2 separate regions of the Homo sapiens genome follow, and region 1 is linked to region 2. Evidence: fine-mapped QTL for protein levels in blood plasma. A gene starts in region 2. The other region holds a variant in brackets. All regions are shown on one strand. Distances are from middle to middle. Region 1 holds the start of CNTN4-AS1 (CNTN4 antisense RNA 1). Region 2 holds the start of CNTN4 (contactin 4).

Evidence for each region. PIP is the chance, under the fine-mapping model, that this variant and not a neighbour inherited with it causes the effect. Sun 2018 read protein levels with aptamers (SomaScan).
Region 1: its variant is fine-mapped to the plasma level of the CNTN4 protein (Sun 2018, PIP 0.95).

What each region holds. Positions count from the first base shown.
Region 1 is chr3:3,049,196-3,064,416 of GRCh38, reverse strand. CNTN4 (contactin 4) reads right to left here. Exons shown (of 25, transcript NM_175607.3): 24 at 10,442-10,610; 25 at 6,458-8,297. The coding sequence ends at 8,197. CNTN4-AS1 (CNTN4 antisense RNA 1) reads left to right here and starts at 3,272. Exons shown (of 4, transcript NR_046554.1): 1 at 3,272-3,350. The variant C/G (reference allele first, on the strand shown) is at 8,060.
Region 2 is chr3:2,090,625-2,105,845 of GRCh38, reverse strand. CNTN4 (contactin 4) reads right to left here and starts at 6,980. Exons shown (of 25, transcript NM_175607.3): 1 at 6,868-6,980; 2 at 5,207-5,288. LOC124909338 (a long non-coding RNA gene) reads left to right here and starts at 7,591. Exons shown (of 2, transcript XR_007095785.1): 1 at 7,591-7,699; 2 at 7,888-8,265. RefSeq lists an enhancer at 10,417-11,024.

The DNA of each region.
Region 1 (15,221 bases), 960 kb before region 2:
ACAAAAAAAGCGGGCAATGAGCTAGATTTTCCCAGAGGGCCAATATTGACACATGGCTTAATGGATTCAAAATATTTATGAATGTGTTTTTCTTTTTTTTAAGAAAAGCAACCAATTTGGGAAAATAATCATGTTTAATCAAATGAAAATATTCTATCCTGGGGGATCAATGGTAAAAAAAATTGTGTTTGACTGAACTTAACCTCATTATAAGTAGGTTTTGCAAGAAACACAGGTCCAGCATTGTGTTCATACCTTTATCTGTCACACTATTCACACCATCCTTCAATAAGTGTATTTCTGTCTCCTTCAGTGAACCATGAGGGAAGCCTTAACCCTATTTATCTCAGTTTCTCCAGTGCCCAGCAAGTGCTTGACACATAGTATGCACTCAATATCTTATTTGTTAACCACTAAATTCAAGAGGAACAACTGGGCCAATTCTAACTGCCAGTTATTTGGTCTCGGATATTTGGTCCCAACACTGCAGTTGATAAACGATGCGTCCACTACATAGTTTTCCAACGAGCTGTGCTGTGGCCTATGTTCCTGGCAACAAACCCATTTTTTTAAGCTTTCAGAATATTTCTGGAATCCCTTCCACCTGCTTTAACACCTTCTTGCCACATAATGTGGGCCTTTGCTGGGGAAAGATTCCCTTGTCTTAAAACTCTTTTCTGGGCTGGGTGCGGTGCCTCACGCCTGTCATCTCAGCACTTTGAGAAGCCAAGGTGGGTGGATCACCTGAGATCAGGGGTTCGAGACCAGCCTGACCAACATGGAGAAACCCGTCTCTACTAAAAATACAAAATTAGCCAGGCGTGGCGGCGCATGCTTGTAATCCCAGCTACTCAGGACGCTGAGGCAGGAGAATCACTTGAACCCGGGAGGCGGAGGTTGCAGTGAGCCGAGATTGCGCCATTGCACTCTATCCTGGGCAACAAGAGCAAAATTCCGTCTCAAAAAACAAACAAAAAAAAAACAAAACCTCTTTTCTGCCAGCTCTAAGAGGAACTTCACCCACCAGCCCTGTCTCTCTGGACACACACACATCCCATCCTCACACCATCCAAGGAAAAGTGGGAAGGAGAGTTCAGCAAACGAAACAGAACTCAAAACAGCAAACTTCATGTCTCGCCCTCAGAGCCATTGACCTTCAGAGATCTGACAACACATTCGCAAGACCCTGAAATTTTGAATTACAAATTAATTACTTCAATGAGAGTAATGAAGACCTCCTGGTGTCAGGTTGCCAGATTTAGCAAATAAAAATAAGAGGCTCAGTTAAAGTTGAATTTCAAATAAATATCACATGGGGCATACTTATACTAAGGAAGCATAATTTTTTTTTTATCTGAAATCTAAGTTTAATAGCTCCTCTCCTATTTTATTGGGTAATCCTGATCTTGAAGGGTAGCCGGAGTTTAAAGAAACAGCTCTAAGACACCTGAAGTCAAGGACAACGAACACGCAAAAAACAACATTTGCAGTCAAGGAAAGAGAAGCAGAGAAGCTGAGCCACTTTAGAGCAGACTGAAGCTCATGACTGCCTTTCCTTCTTGTTGCTATATGGGAACCGTATCTATCTGTCTATTTATCTATCTACCTACCTTATTGTTTATGTATCATCTATTTACAGATAGAGACATCTAATGTTTTGGAGTAGGGCCCTAAACCCAAGCCACCAGCATTTCAATTCCTGGTCTCTCTGATCAACTGTGTGATCAGGGACAAATGTGAACCTGTCAACCTCAATCCTCTGTGTATAAAATAGGAATAATAAATGGTAACTAAATCGGTAGGTTGATTTGCACTGAGTCTGGCACATATTATAAGCATAATCACTGTTTACTATTATTATTATCATTGCATTTCTCTGTATTGTGACAAAATACTGTTACTGGTGCCTTGGCTTCCTCACACACATCTGAATGCCACATCATTCTTCTATGCCCAGAATAGTGCCTGGTACAGAGAGGGCTGCCAGTAGTCCCTTGCTGAATAACTAAAACCCTCTCCAGGCACCTATCCTATCCCATTCCTCCAGATGGCTGTGCCCTGGGCCTGGCCGGCACTCAGAACTTCTCCACCTCCAGCATCTGAACCTCAGACATCTCACCCTTCTACCTCACCATTTCCTCTGGCCTACCTACTTGTCCTAGAATGTTCTCTAGTTGAACTTCAGAGTCTAGTTCCTTACTCCATCCTGTCCTTTCTCTAAGTACTTATTTCTAGGTGTATGAAATGCACTAATGAGTCTATGTTCTAAATTCTAGTCCTTCTTTTTTTTTTTTTCTTTTGTTTGAGACAGAGTCTCACTCTCTTGCCCAGGCTAGAGTGCAGTAGGGCAATCTCAGCTCACTACAACCTCTGCCTCCCAGGTTCAAGCAATCCTCCTGCCTCAGCCTCCTGGGTAACTGGGACTACAAGCACGTGCCACCATGCCCAGCTAATTTTTGTATTTTTAGTAGGAATGGGGTTTCACCATGTTGGCCAGGCTGGTCTCGAACTCTTGACCTTGTGATCCCCCCACCTCAGTCTCCCAAAGTGCTGGGATTACAGGTGTGAGCCACCATGCCCAGCCCTGACTTTCTAATTGTCTATGTTACTTTGGGCTTCTTATATAACCTCTTTGCTTCCATTTCATAAATAAAAAAGGAATAAAAACCTATGTCCTCCCCTTATTAGTGTGAAAAGCACTTTGAAAACTAGAAAAACAAATTAAAGATATTACTATTTGTTAAAGTCCTAGGACATATATATTTCCTGGTATAGTTCGTGTTATTCCTAACAATAAGGATATGTGGCAAAAACCCAGTTTACAGAGAATGGGGATATCACATGTAATTGCATCTATATTTAAGTAGCTCAGCCTTCCAATTTCCAGACTTTCAGATCGATCATATGGTTGACCTTTTTTAAAAAAAGCTTTCTCTCTATGTGATCTATATCACTAGAGCTCTGCTAATCTACCATGGCCCATAACTGCTTGTGATAAAGGATAGAGGCCAATTTTGTTTAAACTGTGATCTCTGTTGAGTATTGTAGTTTGCAGGTGAGTTGCAGAGCTGGAACATTTAATCCGCATGGCCCATTTAGCACAAGGGGAAACGGGGCCTCTTTGCAGAATGGGCAGCCTGACTTGCATTTACTAATCACACTCTGGCAGGGGGCCTGAGGAAATCACAGGAAACGGGGCCAGATATTCTCCTCCCTCTAGGTCTGAGATGGAGGTGACACAGGCCTTGTGCCTGGGAGCACAATGAGGAACCACACCCAGATGCCAACGCTGAGGTGCCGTGTGTCTACTATAAGGCGGAAGACACCAACAAAAATGATTTAAATATAAGGTACGAAGGGATGACTGACATGAGTGGGTACAGACCCCATCCCCTGGAGGTCAGAGAAATGCAAGGTCAATTTCAGATGGGGAAGCTGAGGGAGGCTTTGTGCAAAACCTGGCATCTGAATGGGAACCCTACTGCCTAAGTTTGAATTAGTTGATTGTATGATTAAAATTATCGAACATTAAAATTTATATTAAGAAGTGATCATGTTTAAATAAAAGGTGATAATGGATGTGTCAGCTGAGTTCCACTCATTTTGGTGATAAGAAGCATCCACATCCTACATCTGTGGGTCTAGTAAAGTCCCTGGAGAAAAAGAACAATAACAGACGGTAAAATCATCACTGTTTGGAGAGCTTTACAAACTTTATCCTCCCTAATAAGTAGCCAATCATTACAATGCACCCCAGGCAGTCAAACTCCAGGATCCACGTCCTTAGTCTTTGTATTAGGCTGCCTTTGTAAGGCCTCAGTGTCTGGCATTTTGTAATGGAAAAATCTGGGGTATGTCCACAGATTGAATATAAGTCCTTGATTTTAAAGGCTTGCCTTTCAAAGCACTATGGTTGGCCACATAACGTTTTTAGCCAGAACATTTTGTAAATTGTAACAACAGGAAAATAACAGTCACTTCTTGATTATAAGTGTTAACGGAGGAGAACAGTAGCATCGATAATCCAATGTAGTGAACAAAAATCACCTGTTGGTTGATTACATTAGATTAAAAACTGCATGACATTTTTGTTGCTAATTATGTGCTATTTGTATACTTTTTATAACTCAACATTCTTTGCGCATATTTGTAGTGAGGCAAGGTGGTGGAAGAGACTGGGTAAAGGTTAATCAGGATTTAACATTGCCTCCTGGATATAAACAACCACAATTTTGATGGTGGGAATAACACAATCATTCTTTCTTAATATCAAAGTCTATGCACCTTCTACCTCACAGGCTGGAAGAATTCAGAGCTTACCTGAGAAATGAAGCTTATCATCCATGTCTTCTGTGCCCATGGAAAGGTGCTGCTTTGTATGTAGCATGTGTGGGCTCCATAGAAAGTAGGTACACTGAGAGAATCCAAATATCTGGCACAATAGAATTTCCTTTCATACAGTTAAATCACAAGTGGACTACACACACAAAAAGGAGGGCAAGAGTAAGCACTTTGAAAGGTTAAACAAGCAAAGCAAATTTTCCTAGTGGTCCTCCTTCAGAAAAAAATCTCAAGCAGCAATATAGTCATTCCACTCGAGTGTATTACTTGGGCTAAGGGCCTAAGAAAGTCCCCTTGGCTGGCTAAGCCTAGAAAATCTGTTACTTATACCAACCCAGCATTTCTTCTCTTACCTTTGGAAAACAGCATCTTAGTTTTCCTTTAACTATCCCTCCCCTGTGAGTACAAGGTACTCTGGCTGTGGAACTCAAATGGAACTGATCACTTTCCCAGGAATCTGAATATTGAGCATAATGGCGTCAAAATTGGAAACAAAGCTGATTCATCCCCACAATAGCACCCCAAAAAGACTTTCCAAAGTTCCCATTGTCTGGACCCACAGAGTGGCCTGGTTCTTATTCTCCTCAAGAGTTGGTCCTTCAGTGTTTCCTTGGCTCATATGATGTAACCTGTGTCATTCTAATTCCTTACTTTTTGTTTGCTCAAGTTACCCAGGGTCGTTTCTTTGCTTACAGCCAGTGGACCCTACCTGAGGCAACCATGAAAGCCAACAAATGAGACAAGTTTGGGTGGAGGTGCTCATGGGGCACTTTCTAAAACATCTTCAATTCAGTTAGACTCAACTAATCCAGGACCTCATTTACCCGATGATGAAGCCAATTGGTCAAAGACTTCTTCCAGGTACAAAGTTAGAAGCCAGGCCTTTTAACGCTTTTCAGCACATAACGAAAGTAATGACACAGTCTTCCCTGGTTGGTTTGCTGTGGCACACAGGCAGGCAACTGATGCAAAATGCTACTTCAAAGACCCCTTCATTCAATTAATCAGTGAGTATTTATTGCAAGGCACTGTGCTAGGCACTATGGAGAGTACATGGAAGATAAGACCAAAGTCCCTGCCCTCAAGGAGCTTACAATCTAGTTGGGAAGACAAGCCATACATACAAGAAAAAGTAAGTAACAATACAGGAGTTAAATTAAAATGCAAGATAACAGTACAAGAGATTTCCAAAAGTAGTATCTGATTAATTACTAAATGAGCAGCATTGATAGGGGATGCAACTACTTCCAAGCGAGAATGTCATAAAGGACTGAAGCATGGGAAGTCTTTGCAGACAAACTGGGGCTGGAGCTACCCTAGGACAGCAGGGATCTGAATGGGAGAGAAGGGTGGAGAAGGCATTTCAGGAAGGGGCAGCCATAAGACCAAAGGCACAGAGGTGAGACCAAAAGCAAGCAGTGTTCAGGGGTCAGGGAGGGCTTACTGTGGCTGGATACACAGTTAAATCGTTTTGGATTAAAAAGGGCCTTAAGGGCCGGGTGCGGTGGCTCAAGCCTGTAATCCCAGCACTGTGGGAGGCCGAGGCGGGCAGATCACCTGAGGTCAGGTGTTTGAGACCAGCCTGACTAACATGGTGAAATCTCGTCTCTACTAAAAATCCAAAAATTAGTCCGGTGTAGTGGTGGGCGCCTCGGGAGGCTGAGGCAGGAGAATTGCTTGAACCTGGGAGGCGGAGGTTGCAGTGAGCCGAGATCGCAACATTGCACTCCAGCCTGGGTGACAAGAGTGAGACTCCGTCTCAAAAAAAAAAGAGCCTTAAATGCTCAAGCTTAGAACTTACCCTTTTAGCAATGGGGGGTGAGGGAAACAACAGATATACTTACAGTAAATATACAAAAGACTTAGCTAATCAAGAGAAAATATTCAAGTCTCATCTTCAGGACATTTACTTGTGGATTAGGACCCTCTCTACTTCCAAAGAGGATTTGAAATGGTGCTTCAGGGTTGTCAATTCCAAAGGAAAAGCTCTGGGTCATCTAGATTTGGGTAGAGACTTTTGAGTCCCTCTATGATCCCAAATTATAACTAGCACAAAGGTAAGCTAACAAATTCCCTGACAGGCAGGCAGGAAAAATGCTCCCGAAAGACAAGTATCTTTACAAATGACAGAATATTTATTAACAATACCTTTAAAAAAGATTACATATGCTAGATCACTGGTAAATATCATTTACACTGGGGTTGGGAACTCCCTGGGTGTCATTTTTTTTCGTTCATTTTATTATTTTGCTGATTTTTTTTTTGCATGTGATTTTAAATTTTATTTCAACATAGAAGTAACCATATCAAACTAAGAAAGGAACACAGCTTGAAATACTGACAATATTTTTTTCCGGTTACCACCCTAGTTTTTACACAAATGGAATCCCGATTATGACTTTATTGGATAAATATAACTAGAAGGTTGAAAAGTTATATTATTTGTAAGCAAAAATGACAAACTATAGCAAATTTGAGTTCTCTGAGAAAGAAGAAAAGGTGGCAGCATGTTTACATGAGAAAATGTTTATAGAAAATTCCATTGCCTTTTATGTCACTGTCCAGTAGGGTTTACTCACAAAACCTTTCTCATTGTAACAAATAGTTCTTTTCATAAGAATACAGTTTTGTTGATATTGTCATTTTCCAATGTGTGATTTTAAGACCTAGAAGGTAAAGCATATAAAGCAACTAGGCTACCTATTGCAAAACAGAATCATCAAGAAACCATACAATTGTACTAAAGAGCTTTTATAGAGTCATATTAAAAATTCTTGCAGCAACTATTTGTTGAAATAGGAGCAATCTTCCAAAGTCCATATGTAATTTTGATTCAAAAGAAGGGCTCTATTATTACAGAGATACACATATTATATATAAGAAATTTTGTAAAGAAATTACGAATCCATTGACAGAGAATTACTTTTTTTAAATTTACATTCAAAATAGATACAGTTAAAGATAATAAAATGATCTTTTATCCTTTGAAAGACTTGGTTGACTATAGTAACTTTGGGTCTATGTTACTACAGGATATATGTTACTTCAAATTTAATGTCTAAGATAATGCTACCACAAAGACAATGCTAACTCAGTTGAGTGAAAAGAAAATCTTCCTGTACAATGCTAAATTCAGGGATGGGAATATTGCACAAGGTGCCTCTTGGGCAGTACATTGAGCTTTTGAGATTGCAGCCATTCCTGAAACCATCTCAAGTTGGGTTGAACAACAAAATTCACAACGGCATGAAAACATACTGTACATGTCAAAATCACAACGGCATGGGAAACATACTGTACATGTCAAGTGCATTAACCACTAGAAGAGTAGTTTGCATACAACAGCCTTGAGTTACGGACCAAGTCTTCCGCTGTTCTGCCATGAGATCCTTGTAAAACTGTACGAGTAATTTGCAATTTATTTACCAAGATGAGTTTCAAACTCTGTCTTTAAAGGAAATATTTTCAAATTATAATTGCATGATTGTGTTGCCCATAGCATTTTACAGCCGAGGAAAAAATTAATATCTACATTATATGTTAACTTTAAAAAATTCTATAAAACACTAAATATATAATAAAAAATATGCATATAAGGACATATGTAAACTGCTTTGGTAACATCATATTACAGATGTCTTCAGTGCATTGCAGAGTTTCCAAAGAAACTTCAGACAAAGCTAGATTTGCTTTGAGGAAGTACTGTATAATGCCATTC[C/G]TAAAGAAGCAAAAAACATTTTTATTCCAGTAATAAGATGTACTTGAACAACAATATTACTTAGTACTGGGTGTCTTCAAAACAACTAGCTAAATGTTGCTTATATTATAAACAGCAAGTCCTTCAGATAACTTTTGTCATAAACTGGACCTAGCTGTGAGGGAAATCATTATTGTACTGATGGCTGACAGCGTACATGCATTCGAAGTGGAAGCCCCAGATCCTCTCGCGTAGGCATCTGAAAAGAGAGAACAAATTCACTCAAAACAGCCCCATCCCGGCTTCAAAGGGAAGAGGGGCCACGGGGCTTTTTGAAACAGCAGAACTGCATGGATTCTACTGGAAATGATGATCAAGGTCTTAATGGCTTTTAAATATCAGTTCTATGACTACCAAGCTACAAACCTGGGAGTAGGGTATAGGACAGCCCTGTACCTCTGTCAAAGCATTTGTAAAGTAAGGAGGTTCCTATCTAATGTGAGAAGAAACTTCAATATTACTAGTAACAATACTGATAAACAGCATGCTATGTCGATGATTCAACAAAATGAAAATTGCTGCTCCCTTTTGAACTCTATCTTTCTGCTGGGCACAGATGAATATGACACTTAAATCTTGCAAAAACTGGATGAAGGCCAGGTATTATTATTACCTCGCTTAACAGATGGCGGTAATTTGCGCCCAGAGAAATAAAGTAACTTATCTAAGATCACCCAGCTAGTAAATGGCTAAACTGGGGTTCAAACCCATGTCTGTCTAAATCTACCCCTTTTCTGCAAACAAAATAGCCTCAATCCTTTTTTAAATTTTCTTATGGGTCTTACACTTTTCATAGTAAGAAGCTATCAACTGTCATTCGGGGGTTCTTCAATCTTGTAAGGTCTCTTTGACCAACATGATGAAAAATCTCTTGAAACAGATCATGTTTGGTTCACAGTCACTTCCTTGTTATCTAATAATTACACCAATATAATTGCTTAATATATGTTTTTGTAATGAATAAAACCAGGAATCATCAGTCTATCTAAAAATGTCAATCCCTGCAATGATAAGAAAGTATGAAGTATAAAGTCAGATTTTTAATGAAGCGAGATAAGCCCCAATCTTGTATTTTTGTGGCCTGGAGATTTTACTTCCACATCTCACCAAAAATCTAGCTCCCTTTCGATAGAAGTTAGAGGCTTTGTTTGATAAAGTATAATCCAATTGTCCCCCTTTTAAGACAAAAATGCCTTTTGTGTTTGTATGCAAAAAAGATGCAGTAAATATAAACTCCATCCAGAAACACTGGCATATCACCCCTTAGCAGAGGGATGTCACATGGCTAAAAGTCAGGATGGTGGTGAGGATTTTGTCCATAATTTAAAATATCATCTTTTTACCAATGTCTTGAAAATTTATACCTCCAGCCTTCACTGCTCCCCTAATCTCCAGACTGAAATCTGAAAGCCTGTGAAAGTCTACACTTAGATATCTAACCACAGTCTTTTTTTTATTGCTGTAAAATACACATAACAAAATTAGCATTTTAACTCATTTAAAATGTACAAATCAGTGGTACTAAGTATACTCCAGTGTTGTGCAACCAGCACCACTCTCAAGCTCCATAACTTTTGTGTCACCCCAAATGAAGACCCAGTGCCTAAACCCCCATTCCCCACTGACCAGCCACTGCCAATCACTAGCCTCACTTCTGTCTCCACGGATTTGGCTATTTTGTTTTTTTTCTTTAAATAAATGAGATCACACACAACAACAAAAAAATCATGCTCTTAAGATACTTACAAACATGGTATTTGTAAAAACAGAATTGAATGTATTTGCTCAAAAAGAATATGCTATTCTCCCATGCTATTCAACAACATTTGAAAGTGAAGATAATCTTGACTATAGAGAGACATACACATTGATGCACATGTTGCATATACCCATTGAAAATAAGTAGTAAATTCCAAATATTTCCAAGATACTGAACTGCATACACTGTTTCACTGGAGAAAAACTGCTACGGCATACTTAACAATGCTTGTCCTTGTTCCTTCTGACTGAGTCAATGCTTTTCACTTTCTAAACTGTAATTCTGGGGCTACAATAGATGCAATGCAAACTACACAGGTTGACACGGAAAAACCTTAGTGACTAATTCGGGTCTGCTTTAATCTGATTTTTGATTAGCAACTGAGTAGATCAGTCAACACGGGCAAACTGATTTTTGCATGAAACTGCCTATGGCCAGCAAACATCTGGAGAAGGGGGGTAGTGTTCTCCATTTCTATTTTAAGTCTGCTTTTGCAGGCTGAATGTCTTTCAAGCCCTGACTCATCTGGAAGGCTGATAAGATAAGACAGGCAGGAGAAAAGGGAGAAAAAAAGGCATTCTCACTTGATATCTTTGGAATTCGAATTTGTTCACTGCTGCTGCCATCTCCTCCGTCGCTGAATGGCTTAATTTCTATTATATAATCTTCATCGAAAGGCAAAGAAAGCTCCACCGATGTTTTATTTGTTTCAATGACAGATGTGCTGCTTTGTCTGTTCCATCTGTACAAGACCTGCCAATACAGAAAGAACAGGTGTCACCTGCCGTCTTCACAAAGGTCCCAAATATGGAGCATTCATTTGTTTTCACCTCTGGGCACGAGCAAAATGCAGGGATGTAGAGGTTGTCTGGCTGCCCACTTGCATTTGGAAGGCTCATTTGCAGTGAGGGCCATGACTGCAGCTACCATTTTATTCCAAGGAAAGAGCTGAAAGGATATTATATCAGGGGCATCAGCAACGTGATTCTACCTACTGCCTAGCCTCTCGGAGGCTCAGTTGACACTCTTGGGAAAGTGGAAAATATGAGTAGCTCCTTAAGGATGTACAGTGCTCAGTTACACATCGGTGCTTTGGCATCAGAATAAACTTGGCCACTGTGGGATCACAGGCCACTTCACCTTTCAGAGCCTCACTTCAGTCATCTGTAAAAGGGGGACAATAATACCCAGTCTTCTGGAGTGTGTTTTCAAGATTGCACAAGGAGGCTGGGTGCAGTGGCCCATGCCTATAGTGTCAGCACTTTGGGAGGCCAAGGTGGGTGACTCACTTGAGGCCAGGAGTTTGAGACCAGCCTGACCAACATGGCGAAACCCTGTCTCTACAAAAAATACAAAAATTAGCCAGACATGATGGCACACACCTGTAATCCCAGCTACTCCAGAGGCTGAGGCAGGAGAATTGCTTGCACCCGGGAGGCAGACGTTGCAGTGAGCCGAGATCAAGCCACTGCACTCCAGCCTGGGTGACAGAGCAAGACTGTCTCAAAAATATAAAAATACAAAAGATTGCACAAGGTTTGAATCTGGTGATGGCCTAGCTTAGAGGAAGCATGTAAGAAATAGTATCTCTGAAGGCTTAAAGATAATCAGAGAACATACATGGCAAAGGTTAGAGCACAAGCCAGGCACAATAAGTTATGATCACGACTCTTAGAGACAGGACATTTCAGCACAGGGAGAAGATATCGGAAAGGCAAGAGTAGTAACCTCCCATTCCTTTCCTCTGGAACCCCACTTTATGGGGCTAGGTAGCCAAGAGGCAACCATTGTCACCCTGGACATATCTGCAGCTTGCAACAGTCCTGTTTTCATCTTGGGCCCCCCATGGGTTCTGAGTTTGGAGGTGGATTCATTTGATGAGGTGGCCAACTAGCCTCCTAAAAACACATTCACTTACCTGGGATTGCCTGCTGTGATTGGATTTACTCCAATCAGGAACAAAATATACAGGTCTGGGAAAGTGTGCCTTTACCTATAGAACCACTAAAGCTCATCCTCTGTAGTTTCCCCTGACAAAAAGATAGGGTTGGATGAGGTCAGTGGTTTTTGGTCCTGGCTGCATGTTAGAACCATTGGGGTGCTTGTAAAATACTTATGCTGTAGCTCAGTGGTTTTCAACAGGGTGGGAGGGGCAGGGGAGCAATTTTGCCTCACAGGGAGGTATCTGGCAATGTCTGCAGACATGTTTGTCAAAACATGTCCTCCTGTTGTAGTGGATAGAGAGACCAGGGATGCTGCTGAACAGTCTACAATGCACAGAGCAGCCCCGCAACAAAGAACTCTCTAGCTCAAAGTGTTGACTGTGAGGAGGTCAGTAACCCCGCTCCAGTTCCACTCTAGCCTGCCTAAGACTGCACAGAGGTGGGATCCATGCTGTAGTTGTTTTCTAAAAGATCATCAGGAGATGTTAATATGGGATAGGCATCATGATTAGATGAATTAGACGCGTAGTTCTCAAATTCAAGCGTGAACAGAATCACCTGGAGAACTTGTTAGAACACAAATTGCTGGGCCCCATTCCTGGAGTTTGTGATTAGTTCTGGGATGGGACCTGAAAATCTGCATTTCTGACAAGTTCCCAGCTAATGCCAGTGCTGATGGTCCAGGGATCATGCGTTGAGAAGCACGAGATTAGCTCATCCTTCCCTAAGATCCCTTATAAATTCTGATCTGCTGAGGCTACAGACATAAGGTCACTCTTGTGTCTCAAGACAAAACCAGACACAAGTGAAATTCATAAAATTCCTTTAGAATGGTTTAGAACCCATCTGTTCCCTGGCATTTCATCACCTTAATTTATATCTCTCTAACACAAGGTGGAAAACACAATTTCCTTAAGGTAGAAAGATTCATAAGTGTCCCCTTCTTCTCCGCAGCATCAGTTGTATCAGACCCAGCATCCCCTTGCTGATGATTAGGCACAGATAAATCCTCAGGCACATTCAGGAGTGTCAAAGCTTCTCATCACGGCCCTCCAGGAGAATGGGCTGATGGGATGCAAGGTCACATCTGGCTTTGAGGAATAAATTGCTGCTTTGATTTACCTCTGGTCCTTGCAAGAGCTCAGAGGATTCAACTTGTTTCAAATATAAATCCAAAAGAAACACTTCCAGGAAAAAGCAGCACTTTTATCAGCACTGCTTATCAGTCTTGCAGTATTATGGACTGCAGCAGAACCCAAATAAAGTCCTGTAAAGCCTTTATTTACACCAAACACTTGCTTGAGCTGATTGAAGGCTGTGCTTGCATTTGATATAATCTAGGGTGGAAGACAAGGGGAAAGAATGGATTTGTGGGAATAATGATAATAGCAAATATTATAGACTACTTCCACTATTTAATGTCTGAACACTGTGTGTTCTAAATCAGGGGTGTCCAATCTTTTGGCTTCCCTGGACCACACTGGAAGAAGAAAAATTGTCTTGGGCCACACATAAAATACACTAACACTAATGATAGCTGATGAACTTTTAAAAAATTGCAAAAAACATCTTACGATGTTTTAAGAAAGTTTATGAATTTGTGTTGGGCCACATTCAAAGCCATCTTGGGCCACATGTAGCCTGTGGGCTGTGGGCTGTACAAGCTTGTTCTAAATGCTTATGTGGATAACCTCTTAAGGAAGGCAATGTTATTATTCTGATTTCAAAGATGAGAACTTGAGATGTGGAGATGTGAAGCAATTGCCCGGTCTCATGACTGGTAAGTGGCGGATCCTGCATTCAAACCTAGGCAGTCTGGCTCCAGAGCCTGGATTTTTTTTTTTTTTTTTTTTGAGACGGAGTTTCACTCTTATTGCCCAGGCTAGAGTGCGATGGTGTGACCTCAGCTCACTACAACCTCCGCCTCCCGGGTTCAAGCAATTCTTCTGCCTCAGCCTCCCAAGTAGCTAACATTACAGGCATGCGCCACCATGCCCTGCTGATTTTATATTTTTAGCAGAGACGGGGTTTCACCATGTTGGTCAGGCTGGTCTCAAACTCCTGACCTCAGGTGATCCACCCACCTCGGCCTCCCAAAGTGCTGGGATTACAGGTGTGAGCCACCGTGCCCGGCCTCAGAACCTGGATTTTTAACGAAGACTACCTTGGCTACCACCTGTAGGGCTCTGGGCAAATTGCTTTCCCTCTCTGGCATCTGTCTTTGGGAACACAAACCAAGGGAGTTAGACAGCAAAAAACTAGTGGCCCATGGGTCATAACCAGCCTGCATATATTATTTGTTTGGCTGTCATAGTGTTATTTTTTTTGAGTTAGACATGAACATTTAAAAACCGAGAAATTAGACATTAAAAATTTGTGGGTTCTACTGAAAAACTGGAAGATATGGCCACACTGGTTGCTATGCTTTGGATGCTTGTCCTCTCCAAAACTCATGTTGAAATTCGCCATTTTAACTGTATTAACAGGTGAACCTTGAAGAGATAATTAGGCCATGAGGTGATTAGGCTCACCCTCACAGATGGAATTAGCACTGTTGTAAAAGGGCGAGTCAGCTCTCTATCCCTCTCCCTCCCAGCACTGGGTGTCAATAAACTTCTGTTCATATTAATTGCCCAGTCTCAGGTATTCTGTTCCTGAGTAAGACTCTACAAAAGTGCGATCCAGAATAAAATAGACTAAGCCAGTGATCTATATTCCTGTCTGCCAACAACTGGTTGGAGTTGAGAAGTCTCATTCTGAACAATCACAAACTCTGCAGTTGGTGATAGTCCCAACACTTCCAATGTTGCTACATTGTCACATGCCTACCTCTGGACCTTTGCACTTCCTTTTTTGCAGTACTTGGGACATTCCCAGAGAGGTGCCAAGGCCCAACTGAAATCTCACCACTTAAAAGTGGCTTTCCTTGGCCTTTCTATAAAATAATACATCTCTCCTGTCCACTCCATGGCTTTCTCTATTCCCCTCACTCTAGCCTCTTTTTCTCTGCAGTACTTTGTTATCACTTATTCTATTTATTTATGGCTGGTAGGCAGAAGCACCAAGTGGCTAAATGTAGAACTCAGGATCCATACTGCTGTATTCGGATCCCAGGTCTTCAACATACCAGCTGTGTGAAAGGCAAGTGACTAAACTCTATGCCACAGCTCTTCATCCGTAAAACTAGCAATAATAACTGTACCTATCTTCATGGTTATTATACAGTTAAGATGAGGCCAGGCATGGTGGCTCATGCCTGTAATCCCAGCACTTTGGGAGGCTGAGGCAGGCGGATCACCTGAGGTCAGGAGTTTAAGACCAGCCTGGCCAACATGGTGAAACTCCATCTCTACTAAAAATACAAAAATCAGCCAGTCGTGGTGGTGGGCGCCTGTAGTCTCAGCTACTTGGGAGGCTGAGG
Region 2 (15,221 bases):
CAGATGAGACTTTGGACTGTGGACTTTTGAGCTAATGCCAAAATGGGTTAAGATTCTGGGCGACTGTTGGGAAGGCATGTTGAAATGTGAAAAGACATGATATTTGGGAGGGGCCAGGGGCAGAATGATATGGTTTGGCTCTGTGTCTCCACGCAAATCTCATCAATTGAAAGGTAATCCCCATAATTTGCATGTGTCAAGGGTGGGACCTGGTAGGAGGTGATTGCATTGTGGAAGCAGTTTCCCCCATGCTGGTCTCATGATTGTGAGTTCTCATGAGATCTGATGGTTTTATAAGGGGCTCTTCCTCCTTCACTGTCTCTTGCCTGCCGCCATGTAAGACCTGCCTTTGCTTCTCTCGTGCCTTCTGCCATGGTTGTAAATTTCCTGAGGCCATGCGGAACTGAGTGAATTGAACCTCTTTCCTTTACAAATTACCCAGTCTCAGGCAGTTCTTTCTAGCAGTGTGAGAATAGACTAATATACCAGGTTAACTCACTTTAGGCATAGCCAGATTAACGGGCTCACATGATGCAAGAGGAGCTGGTTTTGCTCCATCATGCCCCTTGCTACTGTTCTGTTGGCTTCATTCTCAAGTAGTATGTGGTGACCTCAGCAGGTCTAGGTTCTCTTTTTGGTGTTAAGACAGCTGCAGCAGTGGCAGGCCCACATGCTCCCTGGTTCTAATCTCCTTATCTACAGGAATTAGTTCAAAGGCATACATGGAGCCCAACTAGAGCCACTGAGAAAAAGCAAAGCATCTCACTGCAGTGGTTCTCACTGGGTCCATGCCTGTTCTGTTCTAGAAGCAATTACTGTGGACAGGAAAAGTCAATGCTCTTCCCGACAAGACCTGGTTCCCATGCTCCAATCCTTAAATGGGAAACGGAATCCCACCCAGACCATATGCACTAAGAATGGGATAGTAATAGAGGTCAAAATTAAAAGGAAGCAAGGCAATGGGCATTTATTTGGCAAATAACCAAAATCCATGCTCTCTTTTCCCCATACCTAGAGAATTAGCTGATTTTCTCACATGCTTTCATTGGAAACCTGTGACAAAGACTGGCTAGTTATTTACCAAACCTGTTTTCCTTTCACCCTTCTCCCCCAGGCACTCAGCTAGACACCACTTCTCAGCTTCCCTTGCAGCAAAGGATGTCGAAGTGACTGAGGTCCACCCCAGAGGAATGTGGGCAGAAGTCATGACAACCACTTCCAGGCTGTGCCTACAACAACCTCCAATAAGACTTCTCTGGATTATTTATCTCCTCACACTCTGTATCTTGACTGAATGATGAGGACTCTAGGTACTTAAAGATGAACAAAGCCATAAAACTCTAAGGAACCTGATTCCCTGAATGACCCCATGGACAGCCACTCAGTCAGGATCTATTCTATGAGTACTGAACTACCACACATGAGCAAGAAGTAAAAAGTTAAAATAAGTCACTGAAAATTAAGAGCTTATCTGCTCATGTTAGCCTGTTACAAGGCCCTGTGGAATTTGGCTGAAAACATGACAGTAAGCACATGAAAACCTCTCCAGCCCTCCAACCCCATTAAATCATAAGAAGGGACTTGAAACGCACACACACACACACACACACACACACGTAGACATAAATGGCACAGAAGTGGAAAAAATTGGAAGAAAGAGGAGTTCAGAAAAAAAAGCAAAATTCTCAGGATGTGAGGCTCAGGGAAAGTAAAGAGGAAATGAACAGGGGCTTCTGGGAAAGAAATGACTGGTAGGTATACAGTATTTATGCCTACCTACATGGTAAGAAGATACATATCATTACCTAATTGTGAAGATGCAACAAATACATACTGAACAAGAGGAAAAAAATCACTCTTTAATGTTGAAACAATAACTATCTTAGCAAAAAGTATACGCTTACTATTGACCACTACACATTTCCACTGCAGCCACTGGGAACCAAAACTCTAACAGGCATTTTTATGAAAGACAAATACATAGGAAACATAAGATGAGGCAGATTCTCTAATGGAAATGGGACAACAGGATGAGAACAAGAGGGACCATTTTCTTTTAGACGGTACCTGGGATATATATACAGTCCCCTTAGTCATATAGAAAATAAAGATAAATAAATAGATAAATAAAAAATAATTTTGCAAAGCTCATAGGAAAAGAAGAGGGTTTCCTTTCTTGGAGGATGGGGATATTGATAAAGAGCAATACCTTTGATCAAAAGTTAGGAGAGGCTATTTTAGCTGAAAAACCTGCCAGGGAAGATATTTGTTTCTGCTGAGAAGTGAAGAGGAATTTATCCTCACATACTGAAGCATGAAAGTGGTAGCGCAAGACTCCCACAATAGAATCTTCAGAGGAAGGTTATAATTCAAGGCACAGACCCTGAAAATGTGTTTATCACAAATGAAAGAGCAGTTGTAGTGGTGAAGGGTGTGTAAGTGGGGGGAGTTACTTTAAATATCTGCTCCTGATCCTGGTAGGTATTCAAGATAAAGCTGTATCATATCTAATTCCATTCCAGTATGTTTTGGATTATATCCTTTTTTTCTACTTTAGTATTTTAAAAAATTCTCTTGGCAACTTTTTTATATATAGGCAAAAGTAAAAAGCGGTCCAGTGGCTTAAATAAGAAAAGTATTGAGGCAAAAGCAAAAAAAAAAAAAGCTGTTAAAAAATCAATTCTGGAGTGAGAGAACCTGGTTCAGATCCCAGCTCTGCTACTTACTAGCTATGATGAACAAATAACTTAATTTCTCTATGCCTAGTTTTCCTCATCTGTACAATAGAGATAATATTAGAAGGGCAAAGTAGGGCAATGTGCTTTAAAAAGTATCTCAATAATAGTAAGCATTATGTATGTATTAACTGCTTCTATTATTATTTATTGTATCCATTCCAGTTTTTCTACCAGAAAAAAAAAAAAGCAAGGGTTAGGAGAAGAAAAGGAAGTAACAGTTATTGAACATGGAAGAAATATCACATATAGTAATAAAACATCAGAGAATGCTAGTTGTTCCCCCAACAATTTCTTCTACTTCCTGGATAACATTTCTAGACTATATTTCCCAGCCTCCTTAATAGTAACGTACATCCACAAAGAACTGGGTTCTGGCCAGCACAATGCAAGGAAAAGTAATATGCACTCATTCCAGTTCTGGGCAATTAACATCCTCCCAAGTCTTCCTCTTTCCAATGGCTTGATGCAAGTAAGCACAGTGACCCTGCTGAAGACGGCAAGGGCACAGAACAGATGAAGGCTGGGTCTCTGAATCACACTTTGAAGGAGTACTGCCATGATCACCCATTCTGGGACTTCACACAACCGAGAAATAAATATATTTCACATCTGAGGCAGTATCCCTTTTGGATCTGTTATATCTGCTAAAGAGCCAATCTAAAAGAGCCAAGCTCTTGACCCATGTTGACTCATGCTCTCATGTTTAATCCCTATCGTGATGCCGTGAAATAGATGTTATCCCAATTTTATACCTAAAGAAACTAAGGCTCACAGAAATTAAGGAACTACATTGCCCAGGACTGTAAATGTAATAAATGATGGTGCCAGACTTAGATTCAGGTTAATCTGCTTCAAGGTTTATGAACTTTCCAGCCTCCACACAACACTGCAATGTGGAAAGTGTCCTTCCAATCCTCCCTCATTTACTCCTTGGATTCTTCACTTCCTGACCATTGGTACTTAGTCTTTAAACTAAAACTCCATTTTTTAAAATTCACCTGTATGTCTACTTTGGGAGATCTAAGATGACATCTCCAAAACACATTCATCCTTTACACCTCATTCTATCCACATATGAGTCCATGAGAGGAAAACAAGTGTGCTTAATCTATTTGTTACAGAAGATATAGAAGTGTAGCAGTTTTACAACTGGCTAGAGTATCAGAGATGATGAACAGCAGAGCAGAGATAAGGAGAGAAAGATTTTAAAAATATCAAACCAGCAGTGATCTTTAAAGTGTGCTACACACCCCAGGGGCTGTACAAAATGATCCACCGGGATACATAACAGCAACATGAGACCTTCTATTTCATAATTTTTGCTTTATTCATCTTTTTTGTTTCTTTGTGTGTTTTATAAGTAGTGTATCATATAACAGCATGTCTTCAGTTTATAAATAAATTTTATTGATATGTTGTCAGATTTCTTCTGATAGTAAATAATAATAATAATGAAGATCAATAAATCTAGGCAGTAAATCCTGCCTCCTTGCCTCCTTCACTAGGCTTAAAACATAGCATTACAGGGAAAAATGAACAAAAAGGAACAAAAAAAATCAGTGTGTAGAGACTTCCCCCTGCCTATCATATGAAATAGACTTATTCAACTAAAATAATATAAAAGCAAGTTTTTACAAAATATTAATTTTTAAGATAAGAGAGATTGAAGCTAATGCATATTATGTCTGTCCTCAAATATAACAAAGAAGAAACAACAAGTTAAAATCATGATCAGACAAACTTGTAGAAAAGTCAGTACCATGCATGGGAATTTTCTGCTGAGCAGCTTTATTTTTTTAAGACCTAAATTGAAGGAACGGATGCCCTGTATACATTTCAGAAGAAAAACTGCAGCCAAAAGATTTAGTGCTTAGATCGGAAAAGAAATCAGAAGACCTACTTTTGAACAAAAAGGAGAGAGAAGTAGGTAAAATAAGTGAATGATAAAAAATCCAACATCATTTGAAAGGTTTGTTCTCTAATCACTCTTAATTACCTGCCAATATGAAATGACCATGGAAAAAGGTACTGCATTGACTCCCAATTGACTTGAAAAGTTTTACAACTCAAAGAAACTGAAAAGTGTTGTTTAAAAAACTGCAAATAGGAAAATCTACCTCTGTTGAAACTTACATGTGGCTCTGACATGCACCCTTATCCAAGTCACTTCTCTTAGACTCTTAGTCTTTAATTGAAAAGGTCAGTTTTTCCATCCTTGCCAGCTACCTCCCAGGGTTCAGATGGAAAAATAATGACGTTTATCAGCATCATCTCTCCTCAACAAGACAGAGCAGTTGAAACCAGCTTCAACAAACAAATCAATAGCTATTTTATAAGGTAGCAAAAATAATATTCTCATGAAACTTGTTTTTGATCCTTAGCAATCTTACCTACTCCTGCGACCCACTGCAGATATTCCCACAAAATCTTTAAAGAAATCAAGATAAAAATAGCAAGAATAAACTTACGGGTAACGTGAATTTTCTCATGAATGCCACCCAAATCACCTCCAGGTGCCTGTCTTCATGACACACTGTTCTTTTTCACCCACTTGGGTAGAGAGAGAGAAAGAGAGAACAAACTTGCTATTAGGCAGACTTGGGAACGCTATTGTATGGACCTGCTCATAGGCAACCTATACAGTCTTTACGCTCCTACCCCACTCTCTAAAGGACATAAACCAGAAATCTCAAAAAACAAAAAAATACAAGCGCGTTCCAAATTATCTTGTGTGGGTATCCAAACGACTCAGTTATGTGGAGTTACTCCTTGAACTATCCAGCTCCCACTACAGAAAATTGAAAGAGCTTCCCATGCAGTTAAATGCCACTGTTATTCTGACAAACATGTGCCCGCCCCTATGTTGATTCCAGCAGGAAAACTAGAAAAAGTTCCACGACATTCCTTTCAGGAACTCCTCTTACAAATAAACCTCCAACACACCTCAAGATCCGGCCCACTCTCCTCCACGCAGACCACACACCCAGGGTGCTCAGTCACACTGACTCGCCCTACACAACCTCCGCCAGCTTCTTCGCACCGAATCTGCAGACCCTGGCCAGCAAGCAACCGCCTGATCTTCCCGACGCGCGAAGCCGCCTCCTCGCAGGAGCTTCGCTGCGAAATGTTTCCATGCAGCCGACTCTCTGGCTGGTTCAGAGGGATTCAGGAGCCCACGTCCTCCTACCCTCACCTCCACACCCTTCATAAATAGTAAAACATATACACGAAGCACAAGAGAGAAAATGCACGAAGATTTTGAGCCCCGCGTTCCAGAAGGAGAGTGAGTGGATTGGGGTCTGTGGGGCGCCCGGCGCACAGTTCGCCGCCGTCTGGGCCCGGGGAGGGGACGGGGCGGTTGTCTTGCCTCTCGAAAGAAACTGGAAACCCCCCAGAAGTTGCTGGAAACGAATGCCACCCAACAGGCTCCCGCGGCAGAGACTGGGGAAGCCAGGTACCTTCCCTAAGAGCAGGCACCTGGCCTGTCGCTCGCCGCCGCAGCCTCAGCGCTCAGCAGCCAGCCCGGCACCCAGCGGGCGCCACAGACATCAGCCTCCGTCTCCACGCGGCTCCTTCCACCACGGCTACGGGCTCCTGTTCCTTTAGTCCCAGGTCCCTCCACTCCCCAGGTTCGCGTCCCTCTGCTGCGGGCTGTGACTGGGCTGTCAGAAGAAAAGCCCCGCCGGGAACCCGGCGCCAGAGGCCAGGGCGCACGGAGAGGGGGCAGTAGCCCGAACCAGTCGGAGGAGCTGACTTGAAGGCTTCCCGCAGCATTCCGGGCTCTCGGTTCCTTGTTTTGTGGCTGCCTCGCAGCGCAACAAACTTATTTTCCGGCTGAGAAGGAGAAGAAGGGTCGCTGTGGGGTGACGGTGGCGTCGTCGGGGCCCTGAGTCCTCCGCGCTCAGGCGTTCAGCTCCCGCTCCCCGACCCTGCAGGGCTTCCGGGCTCTGAGCTGGACGGCCCCGCAGACGCTGCCCGGCCCCGCGGGAGTCAGAGCCCCGGGAAGCGCCCCTGTCCTTCGGGCAACCCGCGCGGACCCTGCCCTTTCCCCCCCACACCCGCGACCGCGTCCCCGGGGCATCGCGCGCCCACGCAGGAGCCGGACCCGCACAGCTGCCGCCTCACTTACCTCAGCACCGGGGCGCCGGGCTGGCGAGAGCCTCGGGTGCGGCGCCGGCACAGTCCGAGGGGCCCGGGGCGGCGGCGAAAGCTCCCTACTTGCAGCCAATCCTGGCGTCGAACCCCGGGCTCCGTCTGGCGCGGCGCTGCCCTCCCTCCCGGCGCTCGCGGCGGCTGGAAAAACCTGGCGCGCCGGAGTTCGGGCTGCCGGCTCCTTAGCCGCGGGGCGGGGGAGACGCTCGGGGAAGGGGAGAGGCGCGGGCGGGTGGGAACGGGCGGGAGACGAGCGGGGACGGGGAGACGCGCCGGAGGCCCGGAGCCCGCGCATGCTCAGTGCGCGGCCGGAGGAGGCGAGCGCTGGGGACGCAGCACCTGCCCCGCGCGGCCGAGAGGCGGCAGCCCCAGGTCCCCAGCGCGCGAAATTAGTAAAGGGCGCCTGGCCCGATTCTCAGGCAAGAGGAGATTATCAGCCGGATTCCCGTGCGGGGACGTAGGGGTTGCGTTGTTCAGCGGCCAGGGATGCGCCGAGGCGATGTCTCCTCCCTTTACAACCCGAGTATCGGGGCACGAGGAGGCGCGACCTTCCTGGGTACCCAAACCTCTGGCCTCCGGGAGACGCGGAATTCGGGGGATCGTTAAGGCGCCCTGGCCAGGGAAACAGATGCTTCTGCGTCTGGGCTGAAAATTGCTGAACCGGGGAATGTGGGTGGGCGGGTGGCATTGAACTTAGGCCAGAAGAGGGGGCTTTGGTAGGTTTTTACCTGCCTGTCCTTAGGCGGAGGACACTGGCTGGACAGGCTGCGTTACACACCTGAAGTCTCATCCACGCAAAGTGCTTTCAGGTTGGAATGTGGGGCGGGGGCGGGGGGAGGTCAGAGGGAACAGTTGCTGTAAATTAGGTACAAGGATCAATTTGTGGTGTGTTGTGCGCGGGGGTGGGGCATGTCGAAAGCCTTGTTATTCGAAAGAATGTGCTTTGAACGACGTTGCCACGGTCATTCTACATTATGAATCTACTGTTTCCTTGCAGAAGTGGCTCCCTTCGCCGCAACTCCACACCTCGGGGTAACCGTAGAGATTGGCAGCAATGCCCCAGCCCCTCACCAGCACTGTGCAAAGTGACTTTGACAGGCAGAGAAAAGCCAACCCAGTCGAATTCGTCTGGAAAGCATTCCAGCAACCCAGAGAGGAGCCTCTGTTTCTCTCTCTGGGAAAAAGCCCCAAGGGTTTTGCTGAACCCAGGTCTTCCTGCTCATCTCTCAGCAGTTCAGAGCTACATAAACAACTTCTGACCATTTACGCAATCATGTAAACCTACCCTGACATCTCCACTATGTGGAAAAGATGTTAACTGGAAAACTATTTTTAAACTACTGCAGTAAGCAAATAAACATCCAACTCCAACATATATATGCAGCAGCCTTATTAGTTCATTCAGTGTTGGTTTGGTTTGTTTGTTTTGTCTTCTGCTTTTTAGAATTAATTATTATCTTTATAATTCCTGTTCGAGAAGTGGGCAAAACCAGGCTAGTGATAGGTATTGTTGTGGTCAAATTTTTCATCACTTGAAATTCCATGACTTTCATGATTGCTGAGATTAATGCTAAATAAAGAAGTTACCCCCCCGCCCCCACCCCACCCCAACCTCCCCACCAAAGTTTCCTGATTACTTAAACTTGGAGAGAAATTTTCAGGCTTTTTCCTCCCTCCTTGCCTGGTATGTGTCTGTAATAGAGGTACTTTTGCAAAACTGGAATGTTGGTGATGCAGGTGTTTTCCATGGTAAACAGCCACTGAGGATCAATGGTTCCCAGGTTCCCACTCACTTTGAAGGCTTTTGTGCTTCTGCCGGAACTGTGACTTTTACTACCTGTACTATGTATGATTTTTTTTTACATTGATTATTTCTCTGCAACTAGTCAATTAAAAGTACATATATATAACTTTTAGTAAGACTGTTTATCAAAATATGCTTCACCAGAAGTTCTCCAGAAAATATTCCTGTGTAGTCATGCATACTCCTAACACATTAAAGGGAAATGTCGTGTTTTAGACTGGACACAGAATTTCAGAAAAGAACAAAGAATAAAATATGCTGTCACATTCTCCCACTGGGACTATACATTGAAGCAATTTTCAAAGTTTTATGACAATTTCAGGCAAAGTCCCTTAACTGTGTTTCTAAATTTCAAATGTACATATTTTGTTTCCATTCTCCCCTTTGGCCCTTATTCTGTGCCTGCTATATGCTAGGCATTGTCTTCTAGTAGATTCTGGGAAACAAACTAAACATGACCAAGACTTGCTCCACAGTTCACCATGTAGTTAGGAAAACAGACATTGTGTATCTGGAGAGACAGATTTGGGTCGTGTTGAGGGGATATCAGTTAAACGTTAAGTTAGGAGGAGGCATTTTTTCTTTTCACCAACACACCCCCACACTGATCCAGTGCTAAGCTTGTTCAGTCCCTCCCCAACATTTTCTCTAGAACAGCAGCTAGTTTAAAATGCAGCCAATAATCCAGTCCCTTTTTTCCATCCTGCAGCAAAGAAGCGATGCTCAGCTGCCACCTCTGCCAAGATAGAAAGCCTCTTGCGGAAGCTCCCAGGATTGGGGAGTGTTCCTAATAGACTCAACCCCTGTCAGGGGACAGAAATGGTTTATTTTGATGACAACAGCCTCACACGTGTGTCTCTACATATCCAGGACCCCGACTGCGTGTCCGTTTCTTGATCAGGGGACCTGTGATTGGGATTCTCTGGAGGGGAATGTTCCAAACGAATCAATTAACGCCCCCAGCAGCAAGTTCAATACCACTGCACTGAGACCCAGCTCTGTATCATTGCATGAATGAATTACTGGTGCTCATGTAATTTGCAAATAATCATCATTCTAACACAGTGGAAAATTTCTCCTGCCCGTTTAGCCTGAGTAGCAGCTGAGCAGAGAGCTGCAATAACCCTCACAACACCCTCCAAAATAACTATTTACACATATGTGAAGTTTTACATCCAGGTCTTTTAATATGGGAGTATCTACATAGACACAAGGTCACCTCTTACACTCATTAAACCAATTGAATGAGGACTGATAACTCTTAAGGGAAATCAACGCTGAAACCGCTTTTGACTTTTTGGAGACATGAATGGAATACATCATCAGGTTTTACTCAGCATGCAACCGTTGTGCAAACTCCAGAAAGGGCATCTCTCTGTCCCACTCCCCCATTACCCCTGCCTTATTCCTTCTCTACACATCTGAAGATTTGATAAGTGGGGATTTACTGTAAGAGGAGGAAAGAGGAAAAGCATCACAGGAAAAGAAATACCTCTTTTCTGACCACATCTGATTTGATGCTATTTTCTCCTTACTCCTGGCATCCAGTGGGATTTTAAAAAACTCATATATGCCACCTTTCTTTGTTCTAAATGACTTGAATAAGGTCGTTCAATGGCAGGAGCGACTCAATCAGATAAAAATGTGCAGGTTTTATAATTACGGTTTTACTTGTTTAATGTATAGCTACCTGAATAGATCTTCAAGCATAAAGTAGCAATTATCCCATCCCTGATTTTAAAATATAAACTCAAGTTTGCTTTAATTAAGTAGATAAATCAGTATTTAAATAAACAATTGTATCAAGAAGAGCTTTGTGTTCAGTTTCGAACTGGAGTATAATAAAGTAGAACTCAGCTAAGGACTTTCAAACCAGCCTTGCAAAGCTTCCTTCTATGCAATTGTTTTAGGTGACTGATTGACACTTAAGCTTTAAACTAAGGACATTGGACTAATAATGGGCCCATACTGGGATAATGATAATTAGCACACAAAAGCACAGTTAATTGCCATGAAGGTTGGACACAGACTGACAGATAGAGTCAAAGTAAACTAGAAACCTGACACCCCAGCCAAGATTCCTTTATAAACGTGGCTGTGAGACACCCACTGAATTTAAACATAATAAGGTGGAATTAGGGACCAATCAACTGTTTTCTTAGCCACACGTTTTCCAGATTTTTTTGGATTCTTTATACAAAATCCAAAAATAATTGTTCCAAAGGTCTATTAGTTGCAAAAGTATTTATAGTTGATTTCTGATGTCCTCAGTAATTATGTTCTATAAAGTCACTGCAAACACTGGAGACAATAAAGGGTTATGTTCCTGACAGCCTCTGGTAACAAGATTTTCATCAACTGATAAAGATACCTTCTTTAATATATACTGTTGATTCATTAACATAGAACTCATGGCCTGCAGCACTGTAATTCTTGCCTGAACAAAACTTATCTAACACATGTATTTTCTCTGTGAGGCACATCACAGCTTTCTTTTGCTTAGGAATGCTAGACAGCACTCCAGCACTGTGCTCGAGGCCATTTTAAGCAGCAAAATCACCAACAGAAAAACCCAAAATTTGAGAAACATGCACTAAATATACTGCAAAAAGGAGACTTTTTTAGAATATGAGAGCTGAAACAAGAACACAGAGCATCACTTTGTTTGATCTAAGCTGGGAATGTGTGCATTGGGCAACTACAATTTTTATTCTCTGTGCATCTACAAATACCTCTGTGCGTCTACAAGTGTCTACTCAAGTGCCTTAAGTATTGACTTTGGAGTTATAAGTAAATTTCAGTAAGTGGGCAAATTCACAAATATGTTATCTGTGAATAATGAGGGTCAACTGTACCAAATGTCTCCTTTAAACGGCCACATCCGCCCATATGGTATGCGATTCAATTTAGAGACATTCAATTTATACAGAATTCATCAAATCATTTATCTTTTCATCTTATCCTAAACAATTTACATTGTATTCACATAACTGTAATTACATATTTTCTTAAATATTTTCATTTTGTTCATGTTTTTAATATCAGTTTCTTCATATTCAATGTGTCCTGAACTTTTCTCTATCATTCAATAGTTATATATCCCCTCACTTTTAAAAGCTGCTTAATATTCCATTTCAGAATATACTACAGATAATCAGTTCTCTATTGTTGAGCATTCAAGTTGTTTGTGTTCTGCTATGATAAATAACTCATTGATAAATACACTGATGTTAAATTTTACACACATTTTAAATTATTAACTCAGAATAAATTCCCAGAACTTGATCTACTAGGTCAGAAAGGGTATTAGTCCATTTTCACACTTCTAATAAAGACATACCAGAGACTGGGTAATTTACAAAAGAAAGAGGTTTAATTGGACTCACAGTTCCACGTGGCTTGGGAAGCCTCACAAGCATGGCGGAAGGCAAGGAGGAGCAAGTCACATCTTACATGGAGGGCAGCAAAGACAGGAGAGAGCTTGTGCAGAGAAACTCTGGTTTTCAAAACCATCAGATCTGGTGAGACACATTCACTATCACAAGAACAGCATGGGAAAGACCTGCCTCCGTGATTCGATTGTCTCCCACTGGGCAGCTCCCGCAACACATGAGAATTATGGGTGCAGACAGGGAGTCAAACCATATCAAAAAGTCTTGTGACTTTCCTCATTCATAATTATTAGATTCTTTCTGGTAGATATCCATGATCAACAATTAGAGGTAATGAGGGCTCTAGGCCTCATCCTCATCACCCTCAAAATAATGTAGTAAATTGTAAGAAGAGATAATTCAAGGCTAAATTCTGCACACATAACAACATAGCAGACATTAAAAAGCAGCTATTCAAACTGTAAGCTCAATAAAGTCCCAACTCCTCTGTCCTTACAGTTTCTCCAATAGCCTTTTGAATCAAAGATTCACCAGAGGCAAATGCGACAATATTGCAAGGGCAGGATTCAATTAAAGTCTTACTTGGAGTCAGGCAAAAAAATCCTCTGAAAACTGCTCAACACAGAACTGATCGGAATCAAAATCACAAAACATCATTCCTAAGATTATAAGTTATTCGGCTCACCAGATTTTCCTTCTGTGCTATGCAAGGGCAAAACTCACTGTGCAGTATTTCTAGCCAGACCCATATCTTAAACACCAATCTTTTCACCAGAGAAAATAATCATTCACCAGTGATAATAATCATTGCTATGTTCAATTGTGCCAATTAGCAAGGCTTGTATTGTTGATAGTAAATGCTGTTAATTGAATCTCAAGAGAGTTTCAGATAAGACGTTTACAGATGCTACCTGCCCTCTGCAATATGTATTCCTGATTAGGGCTCTGCAAATGTTAACAGCAGTACCCTTACAGGTTAAAAACAATACACACGAAAACACATGCACGCACACAGCCATCAGCCATACATCACACTATATATACCGTCTTTAAATAAATTAAATGCAACATGGAAAGGTTATATATGTTTTTAATATGATATTTATTCATTTCGCCAAAGTTTGTGTCAATTTACTCTCTCATCATAGTGTATTTTTTCAGTTCTTTGCTGAGTATTGTAAGTTTATTTATATATTTTCTAATTTGTGGACATAAAGTGTTTCTTGTTTTCCTTTTTTAAAAAATTCTAGTGAGGTTAAAGATTTTTTTATGTTTATGTGTTATATGCATTTTATGAATTGCCTCTGTGTTCCTTATTCATTTATTTGAGTTTTCATCTTTATCCTAGAGATTAGTCAAAGATTTCAGAATATTTAAGGTAGTAAACTTTTATCCGTTGAAAATATTTCTTTCTATTTGCCTTTTAACTTTAGAAATCTGTACTCCCAGCACTTTGGGAGGCTGAGGCAGGTGGATCACCTGAGGTCAGGAGTTTGAAACCAGCCTGGCCAACATGGCGAAACCCCCTTCTCTACTAAATATACAAAAATTAGCTGGGTGCGGTGGTAGGCACCTGTAATCCCAGCTACTCAGGAAGCTGAGACAGGAGAATCTCTTGAACCCGGGAGGTGGAGGTTGCAGTGAGCCGAGATCATGCCATTGCACTCCAGCCTGGACAACAGAGCGAGACTCCATCTCAAGAGAAAAGAAGAAAGAAAGAGAGAGAGAGAGAAAGATTTTTTACATTTTTATATAATCAATTTAGTAGTTTTTCTTTACATTTCTATCTTTGGTGTCATATATTTAAAGTATATTCTTGGGTTCTGACATATGGAATCAAAATGTAAGGAGTCCAGTGGACCCACTCCCAAGGAAAACAAGCTAAGTGGAGGTGAAAATTATTTAAACACACACACATTTAAAAACTCTGGAAGTGGTTTTAAGGACATATATATCAATGAAGAAATATTTATTCAAGAAAATCTAGTAAAACTCATCAAGAACGGTGAGAGTCTGTGGCATTTGTTCCACAACCTTCTCCCTGCCAGCTCAGCACGGCAGAAACTCCACTCCAGGTGAGCACAGCCAATAACATAGTAGTACCCTTCACTCCCCAGGCAACCCCAGAACCCAGTAAAGGGAATGTGGCATCTTTCTGGGAAGGACATGCCTTTAGCATTTCCTGTCCTCCCCACAATTACCTGTTGCAGAGGCTAAATATCAGGAGAGTGTGGCCAGGAGGTCAAGGCTACCTTCTTTCACTCAGCCCTCATTCATAGAACAGGGAGATTCTTTCTAGCCAATTGCCCTAAACATAGCTAATTTGTAAGGAGAAGGTTCTGTGTCAAGAGGTACGCCTAGAATACCAGAGGCTGCTGCCCCCACCAAGATTCCTTCTAAATCTAGGTTGTCATCAGAGAGAAGCATATGACTGTCCCCACAACTAATTCCAAAGCCATGGCTCAGAGATTTGGTCCAGGGGAAGAGATAGGCCATAAGAAAACAAAAAAATAAACAAAAAAACTGACTTGACTTTCAACGGAGTGTAGAGAAGTTCAATTTTAAGGATCTCAAAATCAAAGGAGGTTTTGGTAGAAAGCAATTAGGAAGAGGATGGTACCTTCATGAGGGATTTAAGTTAAACCACAAACCAGTAAGCTTATGAGAGAAAAAAAAGAGAGCTAAGAAGAGCCTTCTTTGGGTCCAAGCAAACCTCAGACATTCATCTCAAAATTACCCCATAAAGGAACCCAAGTTTAATTGAATTGTTTTCAGTCTAGGGAGCAATTTATGCTCCAGGGCATTGTATAAACAATAGATCAATCAGTTGGGAATTAGTAGAGCTTAACAGCTGGGTATGATCATGGAAAAAGAGCCTGGAAGACAGCCCTTCTAAAAGCACTGTATTGGAGGCTGACTGTGCACATGTCAGCCTGCACCCTCTGAGGAGCAAAATCAGAGTCTTCATACTGTGAGGGAAATAGACCCTATTCTAACAGCCCAGCAAGTGACTATACAACTAAACATGCAAACTACAATAAACATGTGAGGCAGAAGGGGGCCCTCCAGAGTTGTAACAATATATTATCTAAAATTAAGTTTTCAACAACAAATTATGAGACACGCAAAGAAACA